Homo sapiens: one gene and its partners. The protein of the gene in region 3 purifies or fractionates together with the protein of the main gene of each other region. This does not show direct contact. Each region holds a gene or a part of one and is shown on either strand. Other genes may lie near its edges.

Region 1 (3,655 bases), on a different chromosome or scaffold from region 3:
GACTTTGTACCTATTATTGTTTGTTTGTTGTTGTTGTTTTGTTTTTTGTTGGTTTTGGTTTTTTTTGAGATGGATTCTCGCTCCATGCCCAGGCTGGAGTGCAGTGGTGTGATCTTGGCTCACTGCAACCTCCGCCTCCTGGGTTCAAGCAATCCTCCTGCCTAAGCCTCCTGAGTAGCTGGGATTATAGGTGTGCACCACCACCGCCCGGCTAATTTTTGTATTTTTAGTAGAGACAGGGTTTCACTATGTTAGCCAGGCTGGTCTTGAACTCCTAACTTCAGGTGATCCACCGCCTTCGGTCTCCCAAAGTGCTGTGATTACAGACATGAGCCACCGTGCCCAGCCTGTAGATGTATTTTTGTAGGAAAGATACCTAGCAGTGGAATTGCTGGGCTTGGGGTAAACATTACTTTGTTGGATGCTGCCAAATTGTGCTCCAAAAAGGTATGAGCGCCAGTCTTAGAAAGGAAGACCCTTTCCCCCAGCCGTGGCCCCCACTGTGTATTACCTGTCCTCTCCTTTGCCAGTGGAGGTGAAAGGAGGGAGTTGTTGGAGGACTTGGAATTTTTGGTGAGGCTGCAGACCTCTTCCTGTGTCCCTCATACTCATGCTCCCTGGGCCCACAGGGAGTCACAGCCACCCCGTCCCTCCCCTTCCAGGTCCTGAGGATGTGTGTGAGGCCTATAGGCATGTGCTGGGCCAAGATAAGGTGTCCTATGAGGTACCCCGCTTGCATGGGGATGAGGAGCGCTTCTTCGTGGAAGGCCTGTCCTTCCCTGATGCCGGCTTCACAGGACTCATCTCCTTCCATGTCACTCTGCTGGACGACTCCAACGAGGTAGGGACAGAGGGGGTTCAAGAGGAGCTCCACTCGGGACCAGCCTGGGCAACATGGTGAAACCCCATCTCTACAAAAAAAAAAAAAATAGCGAGGTATAGTGGTGTACACCTATAGTCCCAGTTACTTGGGAGGCTGAGGTGGGAGGATCACCTGAACCCCAGGGAGGTTGAGGTTGCAGTGAGCCATGATCACCCCACTGCACTCCACAGCCTGGGCAACAAAGTAAGACCCTGTCTCCAAAAAATAATAATAATAAAGGGCAGTGGGGAGGACTCCATTCCTGGTAAGTCTACCAGGCACCACTGGTGTGAAAGACCCCAGACTTCTTGACCACCCCTCTGGTTCATTTCCATCTTGCAGAGAAGCAAGGGGTTTTCTTATGGACCACAGTGGTGGAATCAGAGTCCCCCCAGGCCTCTGGACTCCAAGTCCAGTGCTCTTTCTCCCCTGGTCTGCCCCTGCAGGATTTCTCGGCATCCCCTATCTTCACTGACACTGTGGTGTTCCGAGTGGCACCCTGGATCATGACGCCCAGCACTCTGCCACCCCTAGAGGTGTATGTGTGCCGGTGAGTCTTGGGGCAGTGGGTGGTCCCTCTGGCCCCCAGGCCCCGGCTCCATCCTGAGCCCCTCTTCCCTGGGCTTGTCCGTAGTGTGAGGAACAACACGTGTTTTGTGGATGCGGTGGCAGAGCTGGCCAGGAAGGCCGGCTGCAAGCTGACCATCTGCCCACAGGCCGAGAACCGCAACGACCGCTGGATCCAGGTAACCACAGCCACTGGGCAGGGCCCAGCAAGGACGCCATCCTGGAGAGAGAGGCCTTCATTTGGGGGCCACCGAGAAACATCCAGGAGGACCTGGGTGCTCCCCAGGGAACTTGCTGCCGTTTCTAATGTGAGACCTAGAGGCTTCTCTCCAGAACCTTCTGGAGACCCACGCTGATCCTGGATTCAACACCCATTCACCCACCGGATCTGGGCTAGGCACTAGGCTAGGCCCACAGGGGTGGCACAGGTGTGAGACACACACTCCCTGCCCTCAACAGCTGAGACCAGTGGTTCTCATCAAGAGGCGATGTGTCCCCAGGAGACGTTTTGCAGTATCTGCAGACAGTGCGCAGGACAAGCCCCCACAATAACATATCATCCAGTCCCACGCCTCAGTAGTGTCGAGGCTGAGAAACCTTGATGTGCAGAATGATTGCTACAAAAATACCTACTCCTACTATCTAGTGTGTAGCTGGGGCAACATGGTGAAACCCTGTCTCTGCAAAAAAGTTAAAAAATTAGCAGGGCATGGTGGCGTGTGTCTGTAGTCCCAGCTACTCTGGAGGCTGAGGTCAGAGGATCACCTGAGTTTAGGAAGGTCAAGGCTGCAGAGAGCTGTGATTGTGCCACTGCACTCCAGCCTCAGCAACAACAACAAAAAAAAAAAAAAAAAAAGAGAGAGAGAGAGAGAGAAAAAGAAATATCTAGGGTGCAGAGGCTATACCAGCAAAGCACCAGTAGGGTTTGGGGGATGCAGCATCACCTCTGCCCAGGGAATCAGTGAAGACCTCCAGGAGGGAGAGCATCTGAGCTGGACCAGATTTGGCAGATGAGGGCACATGACTTCTGCCATTTATGCCCCATTTTCTGCAGGCCAGGCATAGCATCATTTCATCTTCTTGATAACCCCCTGTAAGTCCCCCATAATTCAGGAGCTCTTAGGGGAGCATGACTGGGCCACAGAGCTGGTAAAGGCAGTGCTAGGACTCAGGCTGCCAAGCACCAGGCTGTACAGGTTGGTGGTCCTGGCAGAGACCGAGCATGCGCAAAGGCCCGGGGGTGGGAGGCAGGAGAGAGAACCTTGTGTGTTCTCCTCTGTCAGGGCACTGGTTCTGAGAAAGGCAAGGGTTGAGGTCGGAGACCTTGAATTCCAAGTTAAGGAGCTTTCCTCTTGGCCGGAGGTCAGTCCAGTGAGAGGGTTTGGGGCAGGACTCTGGGGCACGATGGGCTGGGTTTAGAGCCTGGCTGTGCCACCAACTAACTAGCTGTGAGCTTTGGGACAAATATTTTTTAATTTTTATTTATTTTTTTAAATTAATATATTTTGAATTTATTTTTCTTTTTGGAGACAGTGTCTCTCTGTCACCCTGGTTGGAGTGCCATGGCATGATCACAGCTCACTGGCAGCCTGGAACTCCTGGGTTCAAGTGATCCTTCTGCCTCAGTCTCCCGAGTAGCTGAGACCACAGGTGCAGCCACCAGGCTCAGCTAATTTTTTGTAGAGATGGGGTCTTGCCATGTTGCCCAGGGTTGTCTCAAACTCCTGGCCTCAAGCAATCCTCCCGCCTCACCCTCCCAAAGTGCTGGGATTATAGGTGTGAGCCACCGTGCCCGGACTGGATAAATAATTAGACCTCTTAGTTCCTCATTTTCCTCATCTGTCACATGGGATAATTATGGTGCCCACGCCCAGGCATGTCATGAGGATGAATGGAGTTAATGTTTATAAAGAGTTTAGGGCAGGACCTGGATGTGAAGTTCATTCACACTGGGCCATCTTTTCCTCCAGAACCAGAGGGGTCAGGACTGACCTGGGCACATTTATGGATCCAACTCAGGCCACTGTGAGTGCTTCTCTGTGTCCACCTGCCTTGGCCCAGTACTCACAGGGACACCCCCAAGGTCATGTCCATGTTCTCGTTCACCTCCGGCCTCTGTCTTGCTGTGTGACCTTAGACAAGTGCACCCCCTCCTTGAGCCTCCAGCCCCTCCTCCAGTCAGCAGGCACCCTGACCTCGGTCCTGTCCGCCTCCAAGCACAAAACA
Region 2 (3,655 bases), on a different chromosome or scaffold from region 3:
TGTGGTTTGAACAAAGAACAGTCAAATCTTCTGCCCGACAACTCCTTAAAGGTCTTCAATTTCAACTCGTCAAGTACATCACACTCCAGTTTGAAAAGTCCAAGCCACATGGAAAAATACCCGCAAAAAGAGAAAACCAAAGAAGATCTGGATTCACGAAGCAACCTACACTTGCCAGAAACTAAATTTTCTGAATTGTCAAAACTGAAGAATGATGATATGGAAAAGGCTAATCATATTGAAAGTGTTATTAAATCAAACTTGCCAAACTGTGCAAACAGTGACACCGACTTCATGGGTCTTTTCAAATCAAGCCGGTATGACCCAAGCATTTCTTTTTCTGGAATGTCATTATCAGACACAATGGTAAGTAGCAATGTGTTATTATTTATTTGGGGTATTTTTAAAGCAAGGGAAGAGAAGGATGATGAGCAACTCATGTTATTCTTTTAGAAATGGTTAAGCTTATGTGCTATAGTTTTTATTCATTCATCACATATTTGAAAACCTGCAATGTACAAGGGACCGTTAGAGTGCAAGAAAAAAATGTACTAAGAGTCTTCACTGAAGGCATCTGTAGTCTTGCAGGGAGATAAAGCTACAAATGCTCTAAGGCACATGATCTTTTTTTTTTTTTTTTTTTTTTTTTGAGACAGAGTCTCGCTCTGTCGCCCAGGCTGGAGTGCAGTGGTGCAATCTCAGCTCACTGCAACCTCCACCTCCTGGGTTCAAGCGATTCTTCTGCCTCGGCTTCCCTAGTAGCAGGGAATGCAGGCGCGTGCCACCACGCCTGGCTAATTTTTGTATTTTTAGTAAAGACTGAAAATACAAATACGGGGGTTTTACCATATTGGCTGGGCTGGTCTCGAACTCCTGACCTCGTGATCCATCTGCCTCGGCCTCCCAGAGTGTTGCGATTACAGGTGTGAGCCATCCTGACTGGCTGGCAATAAATCTTTTAAGGCACATGTGAATTTATATGTTGTATTATGAAAGGTATAGGTAAGCTTTTAGAGTTCAGAGACAGATGAGTTGCTTTTTCTTACCTATTCTATGTAAAAATGCTCAGTGCTATACTTAGAATTTTGAAGATTTGTGAAGGAGCTTCCTCTATTTGGGAAGTCCCCAGCCAGGGAAACTTTTTCTTAATCCTTCTCTCTGTGAGATTCACTCTTTGTTCCCATAAGTAGCAATAGGTGTTTATCCTATGCAATTGAGACAGTATTTTGTCTTTATTGGGAATTAGTTTTCATTAGGGAAATATTTTTTTTACCCTGCAAAGCTGTGGGGAATAAAGAATTTTGGTTTTCATTGGATCTTTTCTTAAATATTAGAGAGAAGACAGCAAAACATGATTTTGGGGAATAATTTTGATTTCTGCATCTTCTTTTATCTCACTTCAGAAGATGTTTACTTTACTCGGTTTTTGATGTGAATTGCGCCTTTTTGTTACCAAGCTTATTTAAGGTGAGAAAGGACTATGAGAGAGGAAGGTGGAATATATGTTTAGTGATCAGCTCTGCCAGGCTAGAAACCTGAGTAGGGTTTGTATTCTGGTGGTCCATCCTGTGAACCCGGCTGTCTGGCAAGTGTGGACCTCAATCCAACACAGTTTATCTAGGCAGAAAATACCTTGCACCTTTCCTCGTCTGTACAGGGTACTGCAGCATGGTTCAATGTATTGTATTGGCTTTTACTACAATCCTGTCAGAGAATGTGATGTTGCAAGCTCTTTCAAAATATATGGTTGGGTTTCCAGCAGAGGTGCAGATCCCTTTTTCATGTGATTTCATAAACTTTCATAAAGTTTGGGTTTCAGATGTTTGGTGTTAGGACCCTTTATGTTTAAAAATGATTGAGAACCCCAACGAGCTTTTGTTTGTATGGGTTCTGCCTATCAGAATTTATTATATTATAAATAATTGCTGAGAAAATTGTAAAACACCAGAAAGTAGAAGTGCACACTGCACCAGTGCTCAGAGCAACGATGTCATCACACATCATGGAGCCTTGTACTCCGCTGGACATTTGAGACAGAGATGAAAAAGGCAGGTGACCTCTTCTTATTATGAAAATAGTTTTGACCCCATGGACTACCTGAAAGTATCTTGGAGACCCCCGCAGTGGCCTCTGAACCACATTTTGAGAACCACTGCTATAAACAAATAAGACTGAATCAGCCTATGGTACTCAGAAATCATAAAATTCTAACTATTTCTATTAATAGTTATATAATAGAAATATTAACTATTTCTCTCAAGCACAAAATTTCCACTGGTCCACTTCCCATTCATTACTACTTTGTTCTTTTTAATTGTTCTTAGATCGCTTTCCTTATTTAACTACAGTCTGACAAAGTTGATAACAGAATATACAGTTTCCCTATGAAAATCAAGTCAAATGACATAAAAAGGAAAAATAAAATCTTTATACTTTTTCTAGGCCTTTTTATGATTAAAAAATATGGTCTTTCTTTAGGTCCTGGGCTTTTATTGATTGTATATTCAATCATGAAGGTTTTACCTGAATTTTGTTTTAAATTTTAGGCTTTTTCTTCAGTTTATCTACTTCTAATGTGTATATATACATAAATAGGTATATACCATCTGGCTTCTGATAAGGCTCTAGGGGGGCCCTTATGGCCTTTTTTTTTTTTTTTAGAGTCAGAATCTCGCTCTGTCACCCAAGCTGGAGTGCAGTGGCATGATCTCAGCTCACTGCAACCTCTCTGCCTTCCAGGTTCAAGCGATTTTCATGTCTCAGCCTCCCAAGTAGCTGGGATTATAAGTGAGTGCCACCACGCCCAGCTAATTTATGTATTTTTAGTAGAGACGGGGTTTTGCCATGTTGGCCAGGCTGGTCTCGAACTCCTGACCTCAGGTGATCTGCCCACCTCAGCCTCCCAAAGTGCTGGGATTACAGGTGTGAGGCACTGCGCCCCAGCCTTTTGTGGTCTTCTGGGCATATCACACTCTGGTGTGATGCAAGAGCAGTCAGAGCAAAGGCAGTTCCTAAAATAGGCATCCTGGTCAGCACTGAAAGTAGTTCACGTTTTGTAATATTTTTACATGTATAATTACTATTTTATTATCTTATGCATTTCTGGTTTTACTGGTCTTGTCAGATGGTCTTGAAAATGATTAGTTTTGGAGCCATATTGAAATGTATTTTGTCTATCAAAAAAGCGGGATTAGGCCGGGCACGGTGGCTCTCACCTGTAATCCCAGCACTTTGGGAGGCTGAGGCAGGCGGATCACGAGGTCAAGAGATCGAGACCATCCTAGCCAACATGGTGAAACCCCATCTCTACTAAAAGAAAAATACAAAAATTAGCTGGGCCTGGTGGCACATGCCTGTAGTCCCAGCTACTCGGGAGGCTGAGGCAGGAGAATCACTTGAACCCAGGCGGAGGTTGCAGTGAGCCAAGATGATGCCACTGCACTCCAGCCTGGTGACAGAGCCAGACTCCATCTCAAAAGAAAAAAAAGGGGGATTAAATATACTATGTGCAATGTACATTATGAAATATACCATATATACCATAAACACTTCTATTTAGACTAGTGGTTGTTATATGATTGTAGATTTACTATGAGAAAACAATATTTATATGGATTCAGATAGGGTATGTATATGAACACAAAATTGATTCAGC
Region 3 (3,655 bases):
CTATACTACAAGGCTACAGTAACTAAAACAGCATTGTACTGGTATCAAAACAGATATATAGACCAATGGAACAGAGCAGATGGCTCAGAAATAATGCCACACATATACAGCCATCTGATATTTGACAAACCTGACAAAAATAAGCAATGGGGAAAGGATTCCTTATTTAATAAATGGTGCTGGGAAAACTGGCTAGCCATATGCAGAAAACTGAAACTGGATCCCTTCCTTACACTTCATACAAAAATTAACTCAAGATGGATTAAAGACTTAAACATAAGACCTAAAACCATAAAAACCCTAGAAGAAAACTTAGGCAATACCATTCAGGACATAGGCATGGGCAAAGGCTTCATGACTAAAACACCAAAAGCAATGGCAACAAAAGCCAAAATTGATTAATGGGATCTAATTAAACTAAAGAGCTTCTGCACAGCAAAAGAAACTATCATCAGAGTAAACAGGCAACCTACAGAATGGGAGAAAATTTTTGCAATCTGTCAATCTAACTAAGGGCTTATACCCAGAATCTACAAGGAACAGATACAAATTTACAAGAAAAAAACAACCCCATCAAAAAGTGGGTGAAGGATATGAACAGACACTTCTCAAAAAGAAGACATTTATGCAGCCAAAAAACATATGAAAAAAAGCTCATAATCACTCGTCATTAGAGAAATGCAAATCAAAACCACAATGAGATACCATCTCTCACCAGTTAGAATGGCGATCATTAAAAAGTCAGGAAACAACAGATACTGGAGAGGATGTGAAGAAATAGGAACGCTTTCATATTGTTGGTGGGAGTAAATTAGTTCAATCATTGTGGAAGACAGTGTGGCAATTCCTCAAGGATCTAGAACTACAAATACCATTTGATACAGCAATCCCATTACTGGGTATATACCCAAAGGGTTACAAATCATTCTACTATAAAGATGCATTCACACATATGTTTATTACAGCACTGTTCACAATAGTAAAGACTTGGAACCAACCAAAATGCCCATCAGTGATAGACTGGATAAAGAAAATATGACACATATACACCATGGAATACTATGCAGCCATAAAAAAGGATAAGTTCATGTCCTTTGCAGAGACATGGATGAAGCTGGAAACCATCATTCTCAGCAAACTAACACAGGAACAGAAAACCAAACACTGCATGTTCTCACTCATAAGTGGGAGTTGAACAGTGAAAACACATGGACACAGGGAGGGGAACATCATATACCAGGGCCTGTCAGGGGCTGGGGGACTAGGAGAGGGATAGCATTAGGAGAAATACCTAATGTAGATGATGGGTTGATGGGTGCAGCAAACCACTATGGCATGTGTATACCTATGTAACAAACCTGCACATTCTGCACATGTATCTCAGAACTTAAAGTATAATTAAAAAAAAAAAAAAACGGCAGTGATCCTGAGCTCTGGGGAGACTGCAATGAGCAGAGCCCTCCTGCCAACTTGTATTGGACTTGTAGCAGGATTGCAAAATTGACTTCTGTTTCTTTAAGCCACTGAGATTTAGCATTATTTCTTACTGTAGTATCAGCTAATAGCTACCTTTTTCTCTATTCAATAGCACTTGTGCCCTCCACCTACAAATTTCAACTCTGATTCTACAGCAGTGATTCTGGGGCCTAGCTGCACATCCAAATAGATCTTGGAGCTTTAAAAACATCCTGATGCCCAGACTTCACGCCAGACCAATCACATCAGAATTTACTTGATTGGAAGCTGGCATTTGGTATGTTTTTTAAAACCCCAGGCAATTTTGTTGTGCTGCTGCCAGGGCTGAGGACCACTGTCATAATAATGGGGACCTGAGAAAGCTCTGTCAGTTGCCAGAAGTCGTTAAGCTTCCTATTATGAGGACTTGCCATAGGACACAAATAAGCCCAAAGATTACAGTACATTTTCTGCTTGTAACAGCTATTCCTACTTGTACGGACTTTGAAGTGATTCAGTTTCCTCTACGGATGAGAGACTGGCTCAAGAATATCCTCATGCAGCTTTATGAAGCCAACTCTGAACACGCTGGTTATCTAAATGAGAAGCAGAGAAATAAAGTAAGTTATCCACAGGTTAGCTTCTTCAATGTCTGTCTACAGGGCATGAGGAAGAAAGACGTGGTGGGGGGGCTACCTACCTCTGCATACTGGCAAAAGCCCACTATGCTTCCCCATGCCCGGTTAGCCCATGTGGCTTAACAGAATAATAGATGTCACCATTCACGCCACAAGGTTTCAGACACCACCAAACCGCCCCATTCTTCCCAATGGTCAGTGGCCTGAATTAGGGCTCTTCAATTCCTACCTAGAGCAAGCTCTGGTTGAGCAAAGTTAATATAAATTTAGCATTGATCTAGTCAGTCCAAACATCTTATTTAAATCTAAGCATTTGTTTTGTTCTCATAGGCCAGACATAGATGTATGATATAAAGTAAATCCATTACTCAAAATATCAGTAATATATTAAGATTAAAAAGCACAGAACATTGATTCCAAAAGCTTCCAGAGAAAATTCATTCACCAGATAGTTATTGAGTGTATCCTGGGTGCCAGAAATTGACCTAAATACTGGAGATACAGCAACGAAAAGAAAATCTCTGCCTTCATGAGTTTACATTCTGGGTGAAGAGACAGACTCTAAACAAATAAGTATATATGTGTGTGTGTATGTAATGTTTGTATATGCATATATTTGTACATACATATATATGCATATATGCAATTATATATAGTAAAATGAGCATTTATGTAAATATAACCAAATCAGCAAATATATGTATAAGTATGTCAGTTGGGATTAAACATGGTGTGAAGACAAATAAAACAAGAAGGAGGGTGTGCATTAACTGTGTCAGATGCTGTTTATAGGTTATGAGTTGAAGACTGAGAATTGGCCAGGGATTTAGCATGTCAAAGTCATAGCTGACCTTGATAGGAACTGTTCCTGGGGTGGGAGCATGTTTCAGGAGGGAAGCTCCAGTGGACAGAGTTCAACAGAGACTAGGAGGAATGGATGCAGCAAGTATAGACAATCCTTTCAAGGAGTTTTGCTATGAAGAGATAAAGAGAAATGGGGTGGCAGCTGGAGTGGAAAGTGAGTACAAGAGTCCCACCTAGCAGTGGGAGATGGTAGAGGATGTTTGCACGCTTCTGGAAATAACCCAGTCAAGAAGGAAATGTTAGTGGGGAGCAGAGAATGCGCACAACTGCCAGAGGGCGTTCTTCGATACATGTCCCACCCAGAGGAGAGGGATTGGACTTAGGTTAGGAGCACAGGAAGGTCGCAGGGAGCAAAGTTGTGGTTCTGGGAGCAGGTGGAGGTCCTGTTTGCTTCCAATTACTCAGTGAAATAAGAGGCAACATCACAAGCTGAGAGTTTCACAGGCACTGCTCAAGAATAATTTCTAGCCCCCGTCTTGAATACCTTGTCACAGAGAGCCTTGAGGGTATTAGCTATGAAACAGGGAAATTTCAATGGGGCTGGCCAAGCAATAACACACCAGGGTGAAAGCAAGACTGAGTGGGCACTGGATGGATGACCTAGAAGACTAAGAGTGGACTCTGTCATCGGGGGAAGGAGCAGCACTTTTCACTAACTAATCACCTTAGTCAATTCAGCCCTTTTCATTAAAACCTCA

What was found.
Region 1: the proteins of SPARCL1 (region 3) and PADI3 purify together in Homo sapiens (affinity purification with mass spectrometry; one large-scale study listed by BioGRID and IntAct). This does not show direct contact.
Region 2: the proteins of SPARCL1 (region 3) and CRYBG1 purify together in Homo sapiens (affinity purification with mass spectrometry; one large-scale study listed by BioGRID and IntAct). This does not show direct contact.

Annotation. Positions count from the first base shown.
Region 1 is NC_000001.11:17,269,571-17,273,225, forward strand, and holds part of PADI3 (protein-arginine deiminase type-3), read left to right. Parts: intron 1-662; coding exon 663-841; intron 842-1,308; coding exon 1,309-1,412; intron 1,413-1,496; coding exon 1,497-1,608; intron 1,609-3,655. UniProt on the Homo sapiens protein: Catalyzes the deimination of arginine residues of proteins.
Region 2 is NC_000006.12:106,521,088-106,524,742, forward strand, and holds part of CRYBG1 (beta/gamma crystallin domain-containing protein 1), read left to right. Parts: coding exon 1-366; intron 367-3,655. UniProt on the Homo sapiens protein: May function as suppressor of malignant melanoma. It may exert its effects through interactions with the cytoskeleton.
Region 3 is NC_000004.12:87,480,844-87,484,498, reverse strand, and holds part of SPARCL1 (SPARC-like protein 1 isoform 1 precursor), read left to right. Parts: intron 1-1,938; coding exon 1,939-2,075; intron 2,076-3,655.